Homo sapiens: one gene and its partner. The protein of the gene in region 1 interacts with the protein of each later gene in a pairwise test. Each region holds a gene or a part of one and is shown on either strand. Other genes may lie near its edges.

What was found.
Region 2: the proteins of EYA3 (region 1) and DSCAM interact in a two-hybrid assay, tested with the Homo sapiens proteins (one large-scale study listed by BioGRID and IntAct).

What each region holds. Positions count from the first base shown.
Region 1 is NC_000001.11:28,078,583-28,082,402, reverse strand, and holds part of EYA3 (protein phosphatase EYA3), read left to right. Parts: intron 1-1,951; exon of another isoform or gene 1,952-2,071; intron 2,072-3,820. UniProt on the Homo sapiens protein: Tyrosine phosphatase that specifically dephosphorylates 'Tyr-142' of histone H2AX (H2AXY142ph). 'Tyr-142' phosphorylation of histone H2AX plays a central role in DNA repair and acts as a mark that distinguishes between apoptotic and repair responses to genotoxic stress.
Region 2 is NC_000021.9:40,077,460-40,081,279, reverse strand, and holds part of DSCAM (cell adhesion molecule DSCAM isoform CHD2-42 precursor), read left to right. Parts: intron 1-939; coding exon 940-1,128; intron 1,129-2,302; coding exon 2,303-2,593; intron 2,594-3,820. UniProt on the Homo sapiens protein: Cell adhesion molecule that plays a role in neuronal self-avoidance. Promotes repulsion between specific neuronal processes of either the same cell or the same subtype of cells.

The DNA of each region.
Region 1 (3,820 bases):
TGATTCTTTTGTTCCTTTATTAAGCCCAAATAAAAAAATTTAATCAAATATCTGGGGGAAGGAGATTATTTTATATAAGTTGAGGTGCACCTTAATGCAGGAGTCTTGTACTCAGATAATGATATTATTTTTCTGAATATTTTGAAAACAGTCGAGAATCGTAGAATCTGGTTTACAGAAAAAGTATAAATATTTCTGGTAAGAAGTGACATTTGATTAGGAATACTAATTTTAATTCTCATGTTAACTCTTATTAATTGAGACATTAAGTATACTGTTTTTTTATAGTAGCTTTTGTCCTTTTTCCACTTGGTGGGAAAGTATTGTTATGGAGCTGAACAGAGTAAGCTTTGCTATGATGATAATACTTGTTGATATTTAGAATGTTCTTTACTTTTAGTTAAACATTTAATTTTTGATTCAAAGCAATTCCCTTTTAAATTGCTTCTGCAATTTAATTTAATTTAATGGCTTCCACATTCAAAGCAATGTGGGTCTGATAATCAGTGTATTTAAACATTTCAATAGTTTTCTTTCACCTGAAATTTAATATTGTAGCAATTACTGAATTTAGGAAAATTGGTAGGTAGTTGCTATCAGCACCGTTACTACGGGAATACATTAGAATGATTAGCTTTTAGGTGAAATTGAATTTTTTCTTTAGTTTCCATAGTGACTGAAAACGATTTAGGTCAGCTTCACCTGTTGTGCCCCTCCCCCTTTTCAAAATAAGAGGAACATTTAATTTAGCACAATGATGTTAATTTTTTCCTAGTAGATTGATGAAATGAATGTGATAATCTCACTCTCTTTACCAAAAGAATAATCCAATATATACATGTATGAATTTTGGGGGAATATTTCAGACTTTAGAGAACATTATAGGATAAAAAATAGTACCTAAATATCTTATAAAAATCAGTGTTTTATTACATCACTGAATTTTTCTCTTTTAAATTTAAAAATGTCAAATTTAGGAAACATCTGTGATAATTTAAAGAATAATTTTTGAAATCTGCTTTTGCTTTTCACCAGGTGTTCTTCTGCTATAGGTTAGGAAGCAGTAGTTAGGCAACACTAATGAATAATATTCTTGAGAGTGAGAACTAGAGCTTCACAAAGAGAATAGGCCATCTCTCATATTTAGTGGGGCATTTAATAGGTAGATAAACTGAAAATTTTTGCTTTCATTTCTATGTATTTTTTGTTAGTATGTATTTATTTACTGTAGGTACCTCACATTCTGTGCAAAAAAAAATTTTTGGAAGTAACTCAGTGGTTTCCTTTATCTTTTTTGTTCTCTTTCAGAGGCTTGCTTATATAAAACTACAATTTAGAGAACCATCGGCCGGGCGCAGTGGCTCATGCCTGTAATCCCAGCACTTTGGGAGGCCGAGGCGGGAGGATCACCTGAGAGGCAGGAGTTCAAGACCAGCCTAGCCAACATGGTGAAACCCCGTCTCTACCAAAAAAAAAAATACAAAATTAGCCAGGCATGGTGGCAGGCGCCTATAATCCCAGCTACTTGGGAGGCTGAGGCAGGAGAATCGCTTAAACCCAGGAGGCGGAGGTTGCAGTGAGCCGAGACCACGCTATTGCACTCCAGCCTGGGCAACAAGAGCGAAACTCCGTCTCAAAACAAACAAACAAAAAAGAGAACCATCAAACTCTGAATGTTGTTTCCTCTGTAGTATGAAGTGGTTATTTTCTTCCCTTTTTGACTGGCCATTTTTTTTTTTTTTCTGATAAAGTGGCTTTTAAACTTTTCTGATCATGACCCACTATAAAATACATTTTACATTGCTATCCAGTACTCAGACACATATATGTACATATTAATATTTGAAATCGAAACAGAAGTTTCTTGAAACAGTATCTTTACTACTGGTGATGCATTGTAATATTAATATTTTCTATTCTATTTTGTTTGTTTGTTTGTTTTTTGAGACAGGATCTCACCCTGTATCACCTGGGCTGAAGCGTAGTGACGCTATCACGGCTCACTGCAGCCTCGACCTCCTGGGCTCAGGTGATCCTCCTGCCTCAGCCTCCCAAGCAGCTGAGACTACAGGTGTGTGCCACCATGCCTCACTAATTTTTTTTGTTTGTTTGTTTTGTGTTTTATAGATGCGGTTTCACTGTATTGCCCAGGCTGGTCTTGAACTCCTGGGCTCAAGTGATCCTCCTGCCTCAGCCTCCCAAAGTGCTGGAATTATAGGTGTGAGCCACTGTGCCTGGCCTCTATTTGTTTTATTGTTTTTAATTTAAAACAAACTGCTGGTTTCCATTCACTAAGTTGATATCAGTGCCGTTACTACGGGAATACATTAGAATGATTAGCTTTTAGGTGAAATTGAATTTTTTCTTTAGTTTCCGTAGTTAATGCAATGTACCTGCAGTTTGCAAAATTTTAGTGACTGCTAGATCTTTCCCCTAATATTGTCTTTTTGTAATGGAAAATGTTTAGGTTTGGGGCCAGGTGTGGTGGCTCATGCCTGTAATCCCAGCACTTTGGGAGGCTGAAGTAGGAGGATCACTTAAGCCCAGGAGTTCAAGACTAGCCTGGGCAACATAGCGAGACCCTGTCTCTACCAAAAAAAAAAAAAAGAAAATGTTTAGGTTTGCTAGTTTTTTTCTCTGCAATGTACGTGGATGGATTCTGTAAAACTTAACCTAAATAGCTGCAGAACAATCATTGAGAGAGGGAGGTCCTGTTGCCCTGATTACCATTACTGTCATCCCTGTTCTTTACCATTTCTAGGCACATTATTTTAAAAACTTATTTTGGAATCGTGAGGTTGAAAATGCTCGGTTGTATGCTGAGCTTCTATCGTTAGAATCCTTTGCTAGTTTCCATCTAACAGTCCAAAGTTTAGGTCCTTTCAGTTGGTTTTCACAAACCTTGCTTCTGTTCTTGGCAACTAGTCAAAAGGTTACAAAGCTGCTTTATTCTGCTCTCTTCTGGCCCAAGTCCAGTCTTTGTAAACCAAAAAAAGAGGACTGAGGAATGAAGCAGTTTGCTCATGTGTATATGGTCAGGTGAAATAACATGACTGAAGAGTAATTAGGGTTTGCGACAGTGGATTACATTTATGTATTGTCCCAATTCGTTTCCTGTAATCACAAAGGGGGAAAGGGCGTAGAAATATCAACAGTTCCTTGCCTATCCTAGCTGGTAGAGTGAAACAGGGTCAGCAGACATACTCTACTATTTTTATACCACTACCTGCTCTTAACACTTAGTGAGCACTTACTATGTGCCAGGCACTATTTAAAGCACTTCACTTGTGTTAACTCATACTCATACTTGGGAGGCCTGGGGAAAAAAAATGAGAATGGTAAAGGATAAAGAAGAAGACTTGCCATCTTCTCGTATGTTCTCATTACTTGGCTTAAGAATTCTGGCTGTTGATGACTATAGTATGGCATATCATACATTTTAAGCTCAGTCAGCTTTTAAATATCACCAGTCCTGTCTGCATTGTTCCATTATGAGACACATAGCTGTGGTTTGAGAACTCAGGCTTTGAAGCTAGCCTGCCTGGGCTCGAATACCAGGTTGGTGACTTACTATGTGTATAGCATTGGGGAAGTTACTCTCTGTGCCTTAGTTTTCTCATCTGTAAAATGGTGATAATAACAAATAGCTTCTATTTTATAGACTTATTGAAAGATTAAAATAATTAATGTATTACCTGGGCATGGTGGTGCATGCCTATAATCCCAGCTACTCAGGAGGCTGAGGCATAAAAATTGCTAAACCTGGGAGGTGGAGGTTGCAGTGAGCTGAGATCATGCCACTGCGCTTCAGCCTGGGTAA
Region 2 (3,820 bases), on another chromosome or scaffold:
AGGTACCAACCCGTTGTTGCAAACACACCATGTTCCAGGCCAGCTAGCCAGGGTGGAGAAGGAACATGGCTGCAGATAACAGGGCTGAAGGAGTTAACAGGAAGAATATTTCAGCATTCACAGGGGTGAAGAACATGGGCTTCAGGCTGACTGCAGGATCTGCATCCTCCTTTCAGCACTTGGGACTCACCGCTTAACTGCTCTGGACTTCAGTGTCCCACGTGTTCTGTGGGAGAGTCGTCACTGTTCCATAGGGTTGCAGAAATACTGTAAGCAAAGGGCTTAGGACAGGGCTTGGCATGGAGTGAGTGCTCTAGAGTGGACAGTCATCCTTACTAGTTGTAAAAGTAGAGGTAGTGCTCATGTGGGGGAATGAATTGTTGGAGGAATTTTTCAAACCAAAGAGAAGCCAGGTTACTGTCAGAATAGTGGGATGGCTGCAAGACTTGGAGCTGTTTCTCCTAGTGTCTGTGAACTGTGAGACCAGGAGTACATGAGGAGTGAGGCAGTTGAAGAAATCTCTACTCCCATTGATAATGTATCCCTTTCCCAGAGATTCGAGTGTCTTGCAAAAATAACAGCTTCAGCCTATGTCTTCACTCAAGGATTCAGGCATGTATGATCTGAGGGACAGATATTTGGCAACTTAAGTATTCCCTGCTGCTCAATATGGCTTTTAGAAGAGAATGAGCAGAAAACAGCAATACTTCACAGTGATAATGTCTGGTGTGGCCCAAATGACTCACTAATCAATACATCATGGTGCTTCTCCCAGGCTGGGTTACATTTCCTGGAATCAGAAAGAGCGAAAATGTTCCTTCTGAAGATTCTTCAGTTCTGAGAATGCTCGTTCTATTACCCACACAAAATGCAAGCATCAGTCCACTTCCCATAGAAAGCAAACACAGTGCTCATGTGAATCTTTCTCATTCTCTGCAGGATACATACTGCAGTACTCCGAGGACAATAGTGAGCAGTGGGGGAGTTTTCCAATCAGCCCCAGCGAACGTTCCTATCGCTTGGAAAATCTCAAATGTGGGACTTGGTATAAGTTCACACTGACAGCCCAAAATGGAGTGGGCCCAGGGCGCATAAGTGAAATCATAGAAGCAAAGACCTTAGGAAAAGGTAGGTATGCCTTCTCATCGCTTCTTAATATCCTTTCTTTTCCCGGCCAGAAGAGGAGATTGGAATCATAAAAGATCCATCATGTTTTACGTTTATGTGTTTGAACTTTGTCATTCCTCACATGGCTTCAGCAGTGCCACGGCATAATGAGAGGGACAGCTGGACCTTCCAGAGTGTTCTGGTCCTCTCTTTTATTGTTTCATTTGCAGTTAAAAAGAAGAATGTCAGTTTGAAAATCAAGGGCGTTGGTGTGAATGTGAGGTGCCAAGGCTGGGCAGCCATGAAGCGTGGCGCTTGCCCTCTCAGCCGTTTGGAGGCGCCCTTCTCCCTTAGCCACCCTTGCTCCCACCTTCCTATCATTTCCACATTGCCACATAGCCACCGCTTTTCAGAGGGAAAATGATGGGGTAAATTGCGTTTGTTTTTTTTTTAATCTAAAATGTGGACTTTCAAGGAGATGAATCCCAAAGAAATCATATTCAGAGAAAGAGGTTTTGTCCCAGGAACTCCAGAAGGAAGGAGGGATGATGCAGCTCTATGTGGGCATAGGAAGAAGGTGAGGAGATGTCTTTGCAGGCTTCCCTCCCATAGGAGTCCTACCAGGTGGGGTGGGGTCAGATGGCAGGAGAGCGAGTAATGAGATAGCAAGGGTATTATTTGTGCCTGGTGCCACAGTTTTGGGTAACAAGTGGTAAGAGGTCAAATGATCGGGGATTGATTTATGCAGAAATATATCCTTTAGGTCCCTGGGCACCAAGACCAAGTGTTTAGTTGTGGAGGAAAATCTGTTGGTGCTTCCCAAATCCAACTCTGTCTTCTCTTGAATCAGGTTCATCACATGAGGATGGAAAAAGTGCCCAGCACACTGCCCCGCAAACCACAGAAGGAAACCCATATGTGAACATCCTATTGTTCTTTAGGGAACTCTAAGATACCCCAAAATAACCTCCACCCATGCAATTTTCTGTCACACACCCAGGTCATTACAGTTGGAGAAAGCCTGTTGGTCCATAAAGTCTCTATTAACAGGGGACAAGTTGCCAGTGGCCTGTGAGCCAGACTTGGACTGAGCTCCTGGCCTCGCTGGAGGAAGCAGTCCGAGGGAAATGCGTGAAGATGCTGATGGCCTCCCCATGTGTCCTGTGAGCTGACCTCCATGTGCCTTCTCCCCCAGAGCCCCAGTTCTCAAAGGAGCAGGAGCTGTTTGCCAGCATCAACACCACACGCGTGAGGCTGAACCTCATTGGCTGGAATGATGGCGGCTGCCCCATCACCTCCTTCACACTAGAGTACAGGCCCTTTGGGACCACAGTTTGGACCACAGCTCAGAGGACCTCTCTCTCCAAGTCCTACATCCTGTATGACCTGCAGGAAGCCACCTGGTATGAGCTGCAGATGCGGGTGTGCAACAGTGCGGGCTGCGCGGAGAAGCAGGCCAACTTCGCTACGCTGAACTACGATGGCAGTAAGCTGGCTGGCTTTGTGGCTCTCCTGCTTGTGTCTTGGGGGATGTGCACGTGGGCCCTGCCCCTTTCCCATCGAACATCATCTTTGCCATAGTTTGACCAGTGCCCACGGAGCCCATTAGGCTTTCGGGATTCAATGGACTCTGTCTGGGGCTCCCTAGTTCGTTATATCCAGATGACCATCACTGTGTGTCCAGAAATAAGAGACTCAGGGCCATAGGGAGTCTCACTGGGGAGTCATGGGGCAGGAGTGATTTCTCTTAGGGCTGAAGGACTCTTGACCCTGTGGTTCTGTGCTTGTGTTGATGTCTATGAGCTAACATTGCTTTTGTTGTCTCCCACCCCTTTCCCCACCTCATCCCAATCCACATAACAACTTTCTTTTTTGCACTCATTACACCCTAAACTGCATGTGCAAAAACAATTTTCCATGGTAAAGGAGCTTATGTTAGTCTCTGGGCAGGAGCAGGGCCACTGATGGAAATAGGATAATAATAGGAATCCATGAACACGTGCACACACACAAACTCACACACACTTGCCACTTGCATTTACTTTCCAAAAACTAGGTGAGGTGTCTCTTGACATTAGTTAACCAAAAATAAATGGTTTAAAATCTCACTCATTTTTTCTGGTATCAAGGGCCATTTATTGCTAACTGAACAAATGCTAAGCCCAGTGAAGCTGAAAGGAGCGAGTCCTCGACTGCAACTTAGTAGGGGAACTTTAGAAAGTCCCAGCAGCAGCGGGCTGATGCTCATTTCTCACTAGGGGAACAGCAAGGATTGAGTTAGGTGCTCTAATTGCAAGGTAAAAACGGCAGCAATGCATCAGGATGAGTTGGAACTCCAGTGCAACTCTCCTCAGAGCCTTCTATTCACTGCCTGTTGGTCAGGCTAGACCACAGTGTTGAATGAGTTAACCAAGAAACACCCAAACCCTTTATTGACAGCCAAGCCAAGACCACGTTGGAAGTGCTCCTCTACCTGTGGGTGATGCTTTGTGAGGGGATGCCTTTCAATGAAGTCACTCATAACTGAGGGCTGTAAAATTAGACAGAGGCAGCCCATGAAAAGCATCAGCATTGCTCTCTAGGAGAGTGATTCTTTCTTTACTTTGTGCATTTGGGAGGCCGCTTTATTAAAGCTCCAGCAGGTAGCTCCTTGGAGCACAGTTTATGCCATCCTAAGAAGAGTGGCTGTGAACCTAAGGACCCACAGAAATGA